3 separate regions of the Homo sapiens genome follow, and all the other regions are linked to region 1. The links come from fine-mapping of genetic effects on gene expression. A gene starts in region 1. Each other region holds a variant in brackets. All regions are shown on one strand. Distances are between the middles of the regions.

Region 1 (5,759 bases):
TTTTCTTTAATGATAAAAATGCAAATGACTCACGTTTGGTCATCCACTCCAACACAGCACATTCTAAAGAACAGGAGTTCAAATCCTCCTTCTGCCAAAAGATGTTGTGTCTTCACACACAAATAAGTAATTATGGATTATATTACTACCACAAATTTCTGTTTCTCACTGAAGGCATATGACATTTTAAAAAAGAACAAAAAATCAGAAAGGAAATGTTTCAAGTCTATTTTGAGGTAAAGCAATCAATTTACCATTTATCTTCCTCAGACTTACATATGAAAGCCCCACACACATGCGCACACACAAGATCCCCAAAATGTTGACAACTGTTGAAGCTGCACAACGGATACCAGAGTTCATTATACTATTCTATTTTTGCATATATTTGAACATTTCCATAATATGCAGTTTTTTAAAATATGCATGTGTGTGTCTATAGGTGTTTATACATAAACTCCCAATAAACTGACATAGAAATATCCAATTGTTCAAAGCTTTCATTCTTCAAAAGTAAGTGAATTTCTTTTTTTTTTTTTTTTTTTTGAAACAGTCTCTCACTCTGCCACCCAGGCTGGAGTGCATTGGCACGATCTCGGCTCACAGCAACCTCCACCTCCTGGGTACAAGCAAGCGCATCCAGCTAATTTTTTTGTATTTTTAGTAGAGATGGGGTTTCACCATGTTGACTAGGCCAGTCTCAAACTCCTAACCTCAAGTGATGTGCCCGCCTCGGCTTCCTGAGGTGCTGGGATTACAGGCGTGAGTCACCACGCCCGGCCAGAATTCCATCTAGCTACTTTCTTATTCTAGAAGTTGTACTGCAGGTGACCAGACCATTAGAGAAGGTCTAGTGAAAGAAATAATTAACTGCCCCAGAATAAAACAAGCCTAACCTTGAAAAGAGGCAAAGGGAAAGGTGCTAAACAGTTATTACAATTAACTGCATGTTTATATTTGGTCCTGTTATCCTCTAACACAGGTGGGTAGGTAGAAAAGGGGGAAGTATTTTAGGGCCAGATTTCCTTTTGATTCTTTAAGTTGATGGGCAAGAGAGGCTGGAATAAAGAAATCTAAAAAGTCTCCATTATAAATGATAACCAAGCCAGGCACAATGGCGCATGCCAGTAGTTCCAGCTACTTAGGAGACAAGAGGGGAGAATCGCCTGAACCCAGGAATTCAAAACTAGCCTAGGCAACAGAGTGAGACCTCATCTCTAAATAAATAAGTTAATGAATTAATTAAAGGTAGAATTGTATAATATATGAATTATACCTCAATTTAAAAACAATTTAAGCCCTATACAGTGATGCATGCCTATAGCCACAACTACTCATAAGACTGAAGCAGGAGGATAGCTTGAACTTAGGAGTTTGAGAACAGCCTGGGCAACATAGAGAGGCCTCATCCCCCTCCCACCCCCACCCGAAAAAAAGCATTCATAGCTCATCTTAGTATAATCAGCAACTTCCAATGACTAACTATGCTTTCCTGCTAGACATGAATTTATAAAACACATAAAAATTATACTGTATCTGCTTCAATTCCTTTTTTCATATTGCCATTCAATTTTCACAAGATTACTTTAAATGCAATCCTAAATTCATCACCAATTTAACTTTTGTTAGTTATGTCTAAAAATAAAACTAGTCAAAATTAAAAATACTAACTTTGCAGCAAATTAATCTTGCATCAGCACTACAAACAAATTTTTAAACTTATTGTAGCAAAACATAACTTCGACAGAATCAAAGACATTAATTCTCAAGTCCAAAAAAAGGTCACAAGAAATTATTTAAAGTGGTAAAGGGAAACGCAGACTTAGGCATACAAGCCAAGAAAAAAAAAATTAGAGATAACTCCTCCGCTAGAACCTCCCCCCAATACTTCCATAGCAACAATTATTTCCTTAGCACAAAAGTGATGTGTTCACTTTCACAAAACCTGGATCATCTAAGTTTGCACAATTCCCTTCAATCTAAAAAACAGATGAAATTGTTTCATTTAGGTGAGTAGAATTTTGTGTCCCTATACACGAAAAAAGTCACCATCAGTGTGAGTAAACCACATGGCTCCAGCTTTAAGATCTTGTTCCCCAACCCACTGAAAAGAGTATATGCTTATAAAATATTCATGGACTTACCAGGTTAAAGACAGTTTCTACAATATCCCTATTGGATACTTCTCCAACTTCAACCAAACCGGTCAACACGGCAAATTTCATTCTGATGCCCCTGATGGGGAGCCCTGGTTTCAGAGACAATGCACCCCCTTCAGTAGGGGTTTCTTCTCTCCCTCCACCTCCCCCGTCATCACCTGTTGGTGGCGGGGAAGGGACACGATTGTCTTCGCTAGCCATTGCTAGCTCACGATAAAGGACAACTCAGAGTCACCCTGGGACGGCAGTCGCTGCACTGGTAATGAGCACAACACACGCAATGCAAAACGAAAGGGTCCCTCTTCCAACTTGTGGAGATACCCCAAAGCAGTTGATGTGGAAAGTCCTTGGCGTCGCCCTCCTCCTCTTGGAGAATATTTGTCCAATCTCTCTCCCCGAGGCTGACAACAACGCCAAACCCTATTGGAAGATTAAATATATGTTAAATAGGCTAGGTTTTGTTTTAGGGTTTTGAGGGGACAAGAGGGAAATAGTTATTGTCGGTCAAGTAAGTTACTAAAGGCACCCCACTACTAGCCACCCGCTTCTCCCGGGCTCAAAAAGCTGGGTTCTGGGTGAAGGCAGGTCCAAGAGGCCCCCGAACAGGCTCACTCCTCCCCCACTCTCGTGCAGGTTCTAGGCGCAGGGTAACCTCTCCTCACAGGTGCACTAGAAAGAGAAACTGTCGCGGGGAAAGGAGGGATCGGAGGAAAGAAGGGGGGCCCACAAGCTATCACAGAGGTAGAAAGTTCTTCCTCACCCAGATACTCCGGACTCGTCCTCACCCCCCGCCCAGGAGCAGCGAGACCGAGGTGGCGGCGGAGATCCAGGGCAGGAAAAGGCGGGGGAAGGGGGCGGTGATTATTCTAAATGCTCGGCCCAGTGGGAGGAGTGAAGCACCTCTCTCAGGCACCTGAGATTCGACGGGAAGGGGTGGGGAGGTGTGTGTGGTGGCAGGAAGGGAGGGGAGCGGCCAGAGAAACCCAGCGGCCACCGCAGGGAGAGAAGGGAGGACAGAGAGGTCAGTGCACCTGGTCGCAGCCTCCAAGTTTCCCTAGTCCGCTCCCCGGGAGTCCGCGGCTGCACAGAACTCCATGGCTTCCTGGCCCGCCCCGCCCCTGCGCTCAGCCTTTGCAAAAGCAGCCGCTGCTGGCGCTACGGGCGCCGCGGCTGAGGCTGCTGCGAGTGGTGAGGATGCTACTGCCACAGCTCGCCCCGCCACGGGTCGCGCGGCTGTCGTGTGCCCACTGAAGCTGCTCCCGGCCGCCATGACAGCGCCGAGTGCTGCCGGGCGCGGCGTGCGCGTGCGCGAGCGCGAGTGCGCGGGGCGGGAGGGCGCGAAGGCGGAGGCAGCCGCGCGGCGGGGGCGCGGTGACGACGCGCGGACAGCCAAGGGGGCCCCGAGCCAGCCGGAGTGCTGGGCTGGGGCTTCCGGCTGCACTAGGCGCGCTGCTCTGGTAGCACCAGGTGTGTACCCGGCCCGGCGAGGAGAGACCCTTCCGTCCGAGGGCCTACACTTTCCCCTCTCCCACTCTCGGACCTCGGGAGGTGCTTCTGCCAAGTCCTGAGGCGGGGATTTTGGCGCTCCTGCTGTTGTTAAGTTACCGTAGGGTCTCTTGGCGCGGAGGGAACACGCGCTGCGTTGCCTAGGTGTCTCATTGGACTTGGAGAAGAACACCTGAGGCACCTCTACGAGCCAGAGAGGTGACGGCGCTGGAGCCAGTGAGGCTGCTGTCCCTGCCCAATGGGAGCGAGGAGTCCCCACCCCTGGCTGCTTTCAGCTGTTGCCCGCCCGCCGCTCTCGGCGGAGACTTGGAGATTTCCACTGGGATACCTCGGCAGCTGCCGCCATTCGGGAGGGGAGGGGAGGGGACCGAGTCGACGAGGAATGGGAAAGATTCCTTGCTTTGCAGCTGCCGCGCCACGAAACCTCTCCCACATTCATTCTAGGCAGAGGATTCCTGAGACAGCTGCTATAAACAGCGTGGAGACAGGGTTCCTTGTGCCTGTAGACCTCCGAAGGGTTTTTTCCTCTCGTGATTTTCCAATGTGAAGATTAGGCTCGCGTCATTCTCAGAGTAGATCAAAAGATAAATTATATTAGGTAGTACAGATAGGTCCTCATACTCAGTGTCCCTTCTTTCCACCCGCTATTAACAGTAAACCATTCTTCCTAGTGAGTGAAAAATAAATTTAGAGGAAGGTGGTTTTTCACCCACGTGTATCCTTTGAGGTCAAAGGGCCTTTTTAAAAATACGCCTAGCTCCTAAAATGAAAGTGAAGCAAAAAGTGGGATTAAACAAAGGAAGAATTCTAGAGAACTTAGGAAAAAATTATAGTGGTTTGAGAAATAGTTTCCTGAAGAAAAAGTTATTTGAGATGGCCTTGAGAAGTGGACAGAAGCCGGGCGCGGTGGCTCACGCCTGTAATCCCAGCACTTTGGGAGGCCCAAGCAGATGGATTGCCTGAGGTCAGGAGTTCAAGACCAGCCTGACCAATATGGTGAAACCCCCGTCTCTACTAAAAATACAAAAATTAGCCAGGCATGGTGGTAGGCGCCTGTAATCCCAGCTACTCGGGAGGCTGAGGCAGGAGAATTGCCACTGCACTCCAGCCTGGGTGACAGAGGAAGAGCGAGATTCTGTCTCAAAAAAAAAAAAAAAAAAAGACAATTTTAACTCTCACATGGAAATTTGGGAAGAAAAAGGTAACAGACGCAAAAAGCAAGGGAGGGCTGGGTGTAGTAGCTCACACCTGTCATCCCAACACTTTAGGAGGCTAGTGCAGGAGGATCACTTGAGACTAGCCTAGGCAACAGCAAGACCCGTGCTCTTTTTTTTTTTTTTTTTTTAAACGGAGTTTCGCTCTTGTTGCCCAGGCTGGAGTGCAATGGCGCAATCTCGGCTCACCTTAACCTCTGCCTCCCGGGCTCCAGCGATTCTCCTGCCTCAGCCTCCCAAGTAGCTGGGATTACAGGCATGCGCTAATTTTTTTTATTTTTATTACAAGCCCGCCTAATTTTTGTATTTTTGGTAGAGGTGGGGTTTCACCATGTTGGCCAGGCTGGTCTCAAACTCCTGACCTTAGGTGATCTGCCCGTCTCAGCCTCCCGAAGTGCTGAGATTACAGGTGTGAGCCACCGTACCCGACCAAGGTCTCTATTTTTTTAAAAAAGAAGCAGAAGAACAAGCAAGGGGATATTTTCTTTAGAAAAGTGTTACACGTTTTAAAAATACTAAAATGAATTCAACTGCACCAAATCTCATGTGGTTGCAAATGTTTGTTAAAGATTTGTTTTCTGTAAGTAGACTTAGATATTCCAGAGATGAAGCAGACATCTTTCTGATGATCCGAATTGCCAACACATTTCCAAAGTAAAAGGCGACATCAGTGGCTTCCCATTTCTGAAATCTCTGAAAAACTAAACACCTCAAGTTTGTTTCACATCATTAATGAATAACTCTGGAATAAGGGGGAGTAGGGTGTGCCTGCAGAAGAGACACAACTTTCACTTGACCTTTCACACATCCGTATTTCTAAAGTGAGGCATTAATCCTAAAAGGCCTCTCATCGGAGTTTGTCTCCTCAGATGGGGCAAAT
Region 2 (5,759 bases), 750 kb before region 1:
ATTTGCTCATGTATAGGTTATGCAGATTTTGAGACTAAAGTTACATCCTGCTTCTGTTTGTGAACATACTTTGGCCTAATGTGATTTCATGTGGGGCTATGGGGCTAATCCATAGTGAACACACACCAGGAACTGGTGAAGTTTCTCCACCTAGCTCAGTGGTGGCTTATTCCAGCTTTTAAATGAAAGACACTTCTGCATCTGGATCCAGGAGGAATCTGTTTATATCATGGGTCAGCTGCCTTTTTTAGCAGGGATGGAGAATGGGGCAGGACTGTCACATTAGAAAGGACTAAACCAGGCCTTTTATTTGCATGGCTGGAAGCTCTTGAGATCACAGCCAGTAACAAGATACCAAAGAAACCTACTGAAAATCTCTACCTCAACCACCTTTCATGGTGAATCTAAGCTGCTGCAAGCTGTTGTATTTGCTAAGAAGGGTACAAAGTAGGTGCAGTGGCTACATCCCAGGTTCCCTGACCATCTCCTGCAAGCTTGACTCACACAACCACTGCCATCTCACTGTCCCTCTGACAGGTGTAGGAGGACATGTGACACCAAGTGTGTGGTTGGCCCCTGACCCTCTGGCTCGGCTGCTCTTAGAGCGAGTGGAAAGGGCGACCCCGGGTTGTCAGTTCCTGACCTCATGCCCTGCTCACGGCTACTCGTAATTCCTGTGCAAGACACTTGGAATCTTCCTGTTGTGTATGCTAAGCAGAAGTGAGGTGTGATGTTTCTCAATGGATAAAATAGCTCTTTTATTGAAGTAATTTATGAAAACACTGATTTTTGGTGTACTTTGGGAGTAAGACACTGTCATCTGAGAGTGTGTTGTCTACACGTTTCTATCGATGTTTTTCGGATGTTCATGTTGTCTCTTAGCTCTCCTGCTTTCTCCCACAGATCTAATGGTATTTCTTAAATGACAGCATCTCAGGGACTTGATTGGTTATATTTCAGTAAGAAACAGTATGTCAGGGAGGAAAATCTTAATTTCTGGAGGCAATGCATCTTAAACCAGCCCTCAGTTACTGTACATGGACCAAGCACAGCCCATCCAGCCGCATCTACTCACTGTGCAGACGCACTGCTCCCTCTGTTGTGGTTCCCTTATTTCCAGCCCCAAAACACCTCTACTTTCACTTAGCTGGCTTTTTCTTAGCTGGCTTACATTTATGTAAAGTAATAGCCTTTTTAAGGAGTTAGTTAAAATTGAATAAGTAAATATTGAATAAACTGTAAATGTTATTACTGAACAGATTCTGTCATTAAGAAGCCCATGTGTTGATGCCAGCCTTATTTGTTTCATGAAGTATTGTTTCTTTTAATATTTATTTTTTAAATTTTAATTATTATTATTATTATTTTTTGAGATGCAGTCTCACTCTGTCGCCTAGGCTGGAGTGCAGTGGCACAATCTGAGTTCACTGCAACCTCCGCCTCCCAGGCTCAAGCAATTCTCCTGCCTCTGCCTCCTGAGTAGCTGGGATTAACAGGCGCCTACCACCAAGCCTGGCTACTTTTTGTATTTTTAGTAGGGACAGGGTTTCCCCATGTTAGCCAGGCTTGTCTCGAACTCCTGACCTCAAGTGATCCGCCTGCCTCGGCCTCCTAAAGTGCTGGGATTACAGGCGTGAGCCAATGCACCCGGCCAACTTATGTTTCAATTAATTTTCGTTAGTCGTAAGTTTTTAAAACAATAAAGGTAGTGGAGATACTGATTTTTTTTTCCTTTTAGGTTTCAAGAGGAGCTTTGCTTTAGGCTTGTTAAGCATAGGGTGGTTGAAGTATCATTTGTGTGGCACGACTTAGGTATTGGTATTTTCTTTTACCATTGTTCACTTAAGAAGTTTTCAAAGAGTAATATTCACAAGTTAATGAGGACATTAACAAACAAACAGTGAAGATGTTCATCAGTTAATTAATTTATCAGCAACTTGGGTATTTCTTTGATTCTAAAATGTACTTTCCCTCCCCCACATTTCACCGTCGTCTATTTATTTTCTTAATGATGGATCTCAGATGAAGTGGTACATAAAGTTCCTTGCTAGGCATTTGTAAGATTCAGGTCTAGGTCATTTGTGTGAGTCTCAGTAAGAAAGAGGAGAGATCTGGCCAAAGAAAGCTCATTTTCCTGTTTTCAGTCAGGAGGATCTCTCACATTGGTTATTGATCAAAAACTAGGACTGAATCAGAGTTTGACATTTTCTTTCTTTGTGAATCATTATTTTATTAATGATGTTTAAAATTTAGGAGCAAAAAAGGCATTTCCAACAATTCAATTACAGATGCCATTTTATTCAGCTTTTTCTGTCAAACTGAATTGTTCATTCCAAATCCTTGCTTTTAGAGAAGAGCTGAGTGTGTAGGAAAAAAAGAGGGACCACTTGAAGTCTGTTGCAAGAGAAATAGAGATCAAAGTTCACAACATACAAAGAATTTATTTATGCAATACAGGCCTTTTCTCAAATATTTTTCACAGAATTCCACACAGTAATCTACTAGAAAAGTAGAATTATACACCACCAAATAACATTGTTTCGTTTCTTAGTACAAATTGCTAATCAAAAGGAAGGTGGAGATGATAGTTTAATAACAAATAGTAAAACAGGTGTTGCTGAATACAGCACCCGGTAGCCTCTATTTGCAAACCCGGGGAGGGAAGGGGGTGCC[CCAACAAAA/C]CAACAGTGGCTCCGCCTCATTGTCCAGGCACAGGCAAACCGCAGTAGTGAGCTTTGGTACTTGCATTTACTTTAAAAGAAAAACAAATGTTGTGAGCTCAAGAGCATTTCCATCATTTCGTTTTGTTGTGCTATGAAGATGACAGATCAGGAAAAAATGGTAACTATTTCACACTTGCTATAAATTAGATTCCTTGTGCTAACCACACAATAAAATAGCCTCCCCCAAACCATACTTTTCTAGGTCTAAAACATGCTTGAAGAACAATATTGATAGACAGACTTAATTGAGATGTTTTAAATTACATTTACCATAATTTAAACATTACTATTTAAATCCCAGAAATATTAGTGCTGAAGAAGCACAGTTGTTTGGAAAAATACAGGACCCAAATTACAGCATCAAATTTTCCTATTCCAATATTGTAACCCACTTCCCCACTGTGAAAATCCTATTTCTCAAGCTTGTAGATGCATGGGAAATGTTCTTCATAATATTATAGCTGGAATAAGTGGTTTACTTGCTCCACTGTATGTTTCCATAATTGGTGAAAATAGACTTCTCATTATGACTAAAAATATAGATTTTTTAAAACTACAGAACCCAGCAGCCAGTTTTCTGCTTTGCTAATCCCCCCCAAAAAAGTCAAGCAAAGACTACAAAAATAGCAATTATTAATAACTTTAAAAAATATTTTGCTTCTTTGAGCAAATTTAAGTTACATTCAGATGTGGTAGAAGAGAATGATGCTCCAGGTACTTCTGCTCATCCTAGGGGCAGAGTTGATGTACAGCTGTCACCATCAGTAGCGGGTTTGGTATTCATGATGCCACCGGTTAAAGTCGTTGTAAAATAGCACAATGCTTCCTGAAGCCATGCCAGAAATGATGCACCTAGGAGAAGCACAGAGAGAAGGACTTTTACAAACCTGTGTGTCCTAGAGATGTTACTAAAAACTGCTCTCCCCAAATCCACAAGGTAAATATAGAAGCTGGCAGTGAAGGCTCCAATTTGTGGGAACTAAGGTATGTATTTCATGACTAAAATGTATCCCTGAGTAAGCTCAGAGTACTGCCTCTGACACTCCACAAGGATCCAAGCCACAGCTTGCTTTTTCATTGAAAGGGTACGGACAGCTGGTATGTGCAGGATGAGTAACTAAAATCTGAACAGATTTGTAACTAAAATCTGAACAGATTTGGTAATTTCTAAAGGGGGACTGGGCTGGCAAGACCCATCCATTATATAAGCAACAGACTCAAAAGAAGGAACCACAATCTCAAAGTAACTGCTGGTGGAAAGAAGCAGCACACACTCAAGTGACAAGAGACACCACCTCTGACAGGTACAGAATCAATGAAGAGTGAAAAAGAAGAGTGTTGTTGACCATAATTTAAGCTGGTCTCCCCTCTGTGGAGAAGTAGTCTATGTCCATCATGCTCTGGGTGAGGACCTAGTCCTCGTAACACAGTAACTCACCGAAATCACTGAAGATAAGAACTTCTGCAAGCTTCTTGGTCTCCTGTCCCCAAAGAGGTGGTGCAGGGAAAGAGATGGAGAACATAGGTGAACCTAAACTGAGCATAGCCAGATTTTTCTCTGTGTAGTTTGGTTAGGACCAGCCCTTAGAAGCCATATTCAGTATCCTTCCTAGTACCTCGTATCAAAATTAATTAGGAACTAAAATGTGTCACTACAAAAAAAATCAACTAAAAACAAAGGAAGACAGTAAGGAGGAAATGAGAGACAAAACTCTAAGGCAGAGAGAAAATTAAATAGAAAAGTGGCAAAAGTCAGTCTTTCCTTATCAGTCATTAAAGAGATTAAATTCTCCAGCCAAAAGGAAGAGATTGGCAGAATGGATAAAAAACATGATCCAACTATATGCTGTCTACAGGAGACCCACTTGAGATCTAAAGACAAACATCTTGAAAGTGAAAGGATGGAAAAGATATTCCGTGTAAGTACTAGCAAAGAGAGCTGAGGTGGCTTACACTAATATCAGACAAAATAGTCTTTCAGTCAAAAACTGTTACAAGAGACAAAGGACACTACACTGAGAAAAGGGTAAATTCACAGAAATATAACAATTATATATGCATTTATCATCAGACCCCCAAGATACAAAGAGCAAATATTAACAGAATTGAAGGGAGAAATGGTTCTACAGTAATAGTTTTAGACGTCAATACCCCACTTTCAATAATGGGTGGAACAACCAGGTGGAAGATAAGGAAACAGGACACTTGAACAATACGATAAGCCAACTGGACCTGACACACGTATATAGAACACCTTCCCAACAACAATAGAATATACATTTTTTTGCAGTGCGCATGGAATAGTCTCCAAGATAAACCATATGTTAGGCCACAAGTGTTAATGACTTAGTAAAGATTAAAATCACAAAGTAGCTTTTCTGATCATAATAGAATGAAACTAGGTACCAATAACTGAAGGTAAACTAGAAAATTCACAAATATGTGGAAAGTAAATAAATGATGAGTCAAAAAAAACAAACAACAACATAAGAGACATCAGAAAATACTGAGACAAATGAAAAGGAAATACAACAAGCCAAAACTTATGAAATGCAGCAAAAGCAATGCTAAAATGGAAATTTTTAGCTGTAAACACATAGATTTAAAAATATCTCAAATCAATAACCTAACTTTACCTCTTAAGGAACTAGAAAACAGACAAAACCCCAGGCTAGGCAGAAGGAAGAAAATAATAAAGAACAGAGTAGAGAGAAATAAAGCAGAAAATAGTAAAATGATTGATAGGAAAAAACCCAAAAATTGGTTCTTTGAAAAAATAACAAAATTGACAAACCTCTAGCTAGACTAAGATGACTTGGCTGGGCATGGTGGATCATGCCTGTAATCCCAGCACTTTGGGAGGCCAAGGTGGGTGGATCACCTGGGGTCAGGAGTTCGAGACCAGCCTGGCCAACCCGGGGAAACCTCGTCTCTACTAAAAATACAAAAATTAACTGGGCGTGGTAGTGGGCACCTGTAATCCCAGCTACTTGGAAGGCTGAGGCAGGAGAATCACTTGAACCTGGGAAGCAGAGG
Region 3 (5,759 bases), 58 kb after region 1:
AATTCTCCAACCTGGCCTGAGTTTACCATGGAGGTCAGTGGAGTATCTGGCTGAAAGGAAGAGAGTCGCAGCTTCTGATGTAAACTAATCCTGACAAGATGTTGAGGACTGGGTACCTGGTAGAGTTTCTAAAATTTTGGAGCCATGTGTATTCTTCAGAGGGTTCTCTAACTATAGTGGAAAATACAGGATGAGTTGAAGAAAGCATTTTACCGGAATCTAGGGAAAATCAGTGTTACCAAGTGGTACTAACGTTCAGCAGATCAGTTCGAATGGTTTGGTTGTAAATAATAAAACCCACTCACACTATGAATAATAATCAAATGAGGAAATTTACTATGTCATACAACAAGGAAGCTCAGAGATAGGACAGGGTTGATTGATGCAGTTGTATTACAATGTCATGAAGGATCCAGGGTTCATCCATCCCTTTACCCTATCCCATTCTTGGTAACAGCTTTATCCTCAGGCAGTAGCAAGATAACTGCAGAAATTCTTTTAACTCAGCCATGCCAATATGCAGAGGAAGAAGAGCACTCTTAGGAGTGAGAAAGAATTTCTTCTTTTTTCTTTTTTTTTTTTTTTTTGAGACAGAGTTTTCTTCTTGTTGCCCAGGCTGGAGTGCAATGGCACAATCTTGGCTCACCGTAACCTCCATCTCCTGGGTTCAAGCAATTCTCCTGCCTCAGCCTCCCAAGTAGCTGGAATTACAGGCATGTGCCACCATGCCCGGCTAATTTTGTATTTTTAGTAGAGACGGGGTTTCTCCATGTTGGTCAGGCTGGTCTCAAACTCCTGACCTCAAGTGATCCACCCACCTCGGCTTCCTATAGTGCTGGGATTACAGGTGTGAGCCACTGCACCCGACCACAAGAAAGTATTTCTAAGAACCCTGCACAGTTGGCCACACTCCTACTCTAAAACGAATTACTGCCAAGGAGATGGTAGAATAACCAGAATTGGATTAGACTAGTTATCTGAGGTGGAATAAATGACAGGGAGTCAACTACTTATACTCAATAAAATCGGCCAGGTGTGATGGCTCATGCCTGTAATCCCAGCACTTTGGGAGGCTGAGGTGGGTGCATCACTTGAGGTCAGGAGTTCAGACCATACTGACCAATATGGTGAAACCCTGTCTCTACTAAAAATACAAAAATTAGCCAGGCATGGTGGCACATGCCTGTAATCCCAGCTACTCGGGAGGCTGAGGCAGGAGAACTGCATGAACCCAGGAGATGGAGGTTGCAGTGAGCCAAGATCACGCCACTGCACTCCAACCTGGGTGACAAAGCAAGACTCCATCTCAAAAAAAAAAAAAAAAATTGAATTTTACTTCTGTTGGGGTTTCCTTAAATTTCCCTTAAATTGTCTGTAACTTATTAATTACTGACTGATATTACTAGAGATGTCAGTTAATATTCTTTGCTCATCTGTCTTGGTAAAGAACTCTACTCTTGGCCAGGCATGGTGGCTCACGCCTACAATCCCACACTTTGGGAGGCCAAAGCGGAAGGATCAAGTGAGCCCAGGAGTTTGAGACCGGCCTAGGCAACATGATGAGACTCCTCCTCTACCAAAAAAAGAAAAATAAAATTAGCTGAGCATGGTGGCATGTAGTCCAAGCTGCTCAGGAGGCTGAGGTAGGAGGAATCACTTGAGCCCAAGAAGTCAAGGTTGCAGTGAGATGTGTTCCCTCCACTGCACTCCAGTCTGGGCAACAGAGTGAGACCTGTCTCTAACTCTATTTTTTTCCTCTCCAAGCTCTGAAGTCCTAAGATGCTACTGTCTATAACCTAGAAGGAAATGGATTTCTGAGTCCTTGGCTTGTAAACCAAATTTATAAAGTGATAAAAACTATCTGGGAGATAAATGAATGAACATGAACTATGGCATACACAGAAGAAAGTCACATGTAATTTGGTATGATTAAGATTCAGAATTAATTATTTAATTATTTAAATACTTACTTGTACTCAAGGGGCAGAGGGTGTCAGAGGGGGCATTGTGACAAAGTTAAATTTGTAAAAAAAATTTACACTGTTAAATTTGCAAAGTTAATCTTTTAAAGTTGTAGTTAAATTATGACATTTGAATTTATAATAAAGACTACAAACAGGACCAGCCCAGCATGGTGGCTCACACCTATAGTCCCAGCACTTTGGGAGGCTGAGGAGGGTAGATCACCTGAGGTCAGGAGTTCGAGACCAGCCTACCAACAGGGTGAAACCCTGTCTCTACTAAAAATACAAAAGTTAGCCAGGCGTGGTGGCAAGTGCCTGTAATCCCAGCTACTCGGGAGGCTGAGGCAGGAGAATCTATTGAACCTGGGAGGCGGATGTTGCAGTGAGCCAAGATCGCACCATTGCACTCCAGCCTGGGCGATAGAGTGAGACTCCATCTCAAAAAAAAAATATGTATATATAATAATAAAAAGACTACAGAACCAAGAAATTAAGGGGTGATGAGTAGTCGTTCATTGAGAGATTACAAATGGTATCTTTCGGATGAAGTCACAGTGTACATCCATTGGCATGCCTACCTATCACTCTGGAAGGAAGTCAAGAGGTTAAAGACGTTTGAGTCCCACAAGAGATCACTATTTCCAGGCACCTAAACTCACTAGCGGATTTGTGTCTTTACTTGGGCAGGCCAAGCCAAAGGCCATGCTAAAGTGTTGACAGAGCTATGAACTATTAAACGGTGCAAAATTCCTGAATGAAAGCACCAAAAATAATTGTGTAAGGGAGTTTATTTTTTCACAAACTCTGAGTACAAATTCTAAAGTGAAAGAAACAATAAAATATAAGGACCCACCGGGCACGGTGACTTGCACCTGTAATCCCAGCCCTTTAGGAGGCCAAGGCAGGCTGATTGTCTGAGGTCAGGAGTTCAAGATCAGCCAGGCTAACATGGTGAAACCCCGTCTCTACTAAAAATACAAAAATTAGCCAGGTGTGGTGGCGCACGCCTATAGTCCCAGCTACTCAGGAGACTGAGGCAGGAGAATTGCTTGAACCTGGGAGGTGGAGATTGCAGTGAGCCAAGGTCACGCCACTGCATTCTAGTCTGGGTGACAGAGCAAGACTGTGTCTCTGAAAAAATAAAATAAAATGAAATATAAAGACCTGGCCAGGCGTGGTGGCTCATGCCTGTAATCTCAACACTTTGGGAGGCCGAGGTGGGCAGATCACCTGAGGTCAGAAGTTTGAGACCAGCCTGACCAACATGGAGAAATCCCGTCTCTACTAAAAATACAAAATTAGCTGGGTGTGGTGGCATGCACCTGTAGTCCCAGCTACTTGGGAAGCTGAGGCAGGAGAATCGCTTGAACCCAGGAGGCAGACGTTGCAGTGAGCCAAGATAGCACCATTGCACTCCAGCCTGGGCAACAAGAGCAAAACTCTATCTCAATAAATAAATAAATAAATAAATAAATAAAATATGAGGACCCAATTTTTTTCCCTTGATAAGTGTGACTTTAGCTAATTGATTTCATTCGATATATACCTGTAGCAATGGTTTCCAAACCTCTCTGATCATAAACCACAATAAGAAATACATTTTACATGGTGACTT[AACAC/A]ACACACACACACACACACACACACACACACGCACACAGGCACACACACACAGAGTTATGTTTTTAAAAACTGAAACAGAAGCTAACAAAACGACAATTGCACTTTCCAAGGATGCAATAGTTTTCAATTTTATTTGATTTAAAAACAAGTGCTAGCTGAGTGATGCGTGCTTGTAGTATGAGCTACTTGGGAGGCTAAGATGGGAGGATCACTTGAGGCCAGAAGCTCGAGGCCACAGTGTACGATAAGCTATAATGGTACTTGTGAATAGCTACTACAATTCAGCCTGGCAAGACTCTGTCTCAAAAACAAACAAACAAAAAATAAGTACTGATTCACATCCACTAACTTGATTTCATGACCCACTAATAGGTCTGACTTGCAATTTGAAAAACATTATTCTAGGTTAAATGGAGCCTGCCAAATGCCTGGCTCCATTAATACAAATCCTGCTCTTCCATAGCAGGAAGAGGAGGGAAGGAGATTGTCTATATGGGCAATCGTGAGAAGTGACTGAGCTGCTTAACCCCTATCTTTGGTGTCCTGTGTTTTACTTTTAAACTTTAAGGTAGGTTCAGATTATCACAAAGAAGACCATGATAAGTTCAGATGGCTTAGAGGTATGATTAGAGCAGCATAAACACCATACTTCTCAATTCCAACTTTCTTTTCTATTTTCTTCTTAAGAGCACACAAGCTTTGGAGTCAGGAGCAAAGTTCAACTCCCCTTAAGCTTAAGAGCAAGTTTCTTAATTGTTCTGAACCTCAGCTTACTCATCTGTAAGATGGACAGAAGCAATACTTTACAGGGTTGTAAAAATGATTGTGAGCTATATATACATAGTACATATAATTCACTTAGCAAATGATCAATAAATGACAGCTGCTGTTTATCTTAGGTCAGATGAATACATGCTAAGAAAGCAAACATTGTAAATGCCTTCCTTAACAAAAAAATGTTTTAAGGCTGGCCATGGTGGCTCACACCTGTAATACTAGCACTTTGGGAGGCTGAGGCAGGTGGATCACTTGAGCCCAGGAGTTCAAGGCAAGCCTGGGCACCATAATGAGACTCCTGTCTCTACAAGAAATACAAAAATTATCTGGGTGTGGTGGTGCACACCTGTAGTCCCAGCTGCTTGGAAGGCTGAGATGGGAGGATCACTTGAGCCCAGGGAGGTTAAGGCTGCAGTGGGCCCTGATTGTGCCACTGCACTCCAGCCTGTCTCAAACCAAAAAAAAAAAAAACAAAACAGTTTTAGACTACCCAATATTTCCTGGTCTGATATCTTTTTTTTTTGGAAACAGGGTCTGGTTCTTTTTCCCAGGCTGGAGTGCAGTGGCGTGATCATAGCTCATTGCAGCCTCTTAGACTAAAGTGATCTTCCTGCCTCAGCCTCCTGAGTAGTTGGGACTATAGGCATGGGCCACCACATCCAGCTAATTCAAAAAAAATTTTTTGGCCAGGCGCAGTGGCTCACGCCTGTAATCCCAGCACTTTGGGAGGCTGAGACGGGCGGAACAAGAGGTCAGGAGATCGAAACCATCCTGGCTAACACGGTGAAACCCCGTCTCTACTAAAAATACAAAAAATTAGCCGGGCCTGTTGGTGGGCGCCTGTAGTCCCAGCTACTCGGGAGGCTGAGGCAGGAGAATGGTGTGAACCCGGGAGGCGGAGCTTGCAGTGAGCCGAGATCGTGCCACTGCACTCCAGCATGGGCGACAGAGCAAGACTCTGTCTCAAAAAAAAAAAATTTTTTTTATAGAGACTTGGTGTCCCTATGCTGCCCTGCCTGGTCTCGAATTCATGGGCTCAAGCAATCCTCCTACCTCAGGCTGCCAAATGCCAAAGTGTTGAGATTTGAAGTGTAAGCCACTGCACTCAGTCTGGTCTGGTATCTCCCTTTGGGGAAGCTCTAGATATACCTGTATCCGGAAGGACAGTGCTACAGATTTTTTTTTTAAATAGAGATGGGATCTCACTATGTTGCCCAGGCTGGTTTCAAACTCCTGAGGTCAAGTGATCCTCCCTTCTCAGCCATCCAAAATTCTGGGATTACAGTCATGAGCCACTATGCCCAGCACTGCTACAGATCTTGTGGTCGGCCAACTCCAGTTACAATGAAAACCTGATTATAGGAGAAATGGGCATCAATGAAGACAAAAGGGCAAACT

Direction of the effects. Alleles are on the strand shown, and positions count from the first base shown. SD is a standard deviation of normalised expression in the study named. Not every link is listed here.
In carriers of allele AACAC in region 3, the expression in Th1 cells of the gene that starts at base 3,002 in region 1 tends to be higher than with A alone (large effect, 1.0 SD a copy in Schmiedel 2018).

Evidence for each region.
Region 2: its variant is fine-mapped to the expression of LRBA in whole blood (TOPMed, PIP above 0.99).
Region 3: its variant is fine-mapped to the expression of LRBA in Th1 cells (Schmiedel 2018, PIP 0.95).

Annotation. Positions count from the first base shown.
Region 1 is chr4:151,012,283-151,018,041 of GRCh38, forward strand. LRBA (LPS responsive beige-like anchor protein) reads right to left here and starts at 3,002. Exons shown (of 57, transcript NM_001364905.1): 1 at 2,920-3,002; 2 at 2,145-2,579. The coding sequence starts at 2,360. RefSeq lists enhancers at 2,432-2,611, 2,792-2,921, 3,273-3,870 and a silencer at 3,422-3,571.
Region 2 is chr4:150,262,238-150,267,996 of GRCh38, forward strand. It overlaps LRBA (LPS responsive beige-like anchor protein), which reads right to left. Exons shown (of 57, transcript NM_001364905.1): 57 at 2,198-3,575. The coding sequence ends at 3,485. Among named protein-coding and RNA genes, the nearest start is that of DCLK2, 190 kb to the left of the region's middle. The variant CCAACAAAA/C (reference allele first, on the strand shown) is at 2,674.
Region 3 is chr4:151,070,276-151,076,034 of GRCh38, forward strand. No RefSeq gene overlaps it. Among named protein-coding and RNA genes, the nearest start is that of RPS3A, 26 kb to the right of the region's middle. The variant AACAC/A (reference allele first, on the strand shown) is at 3,580.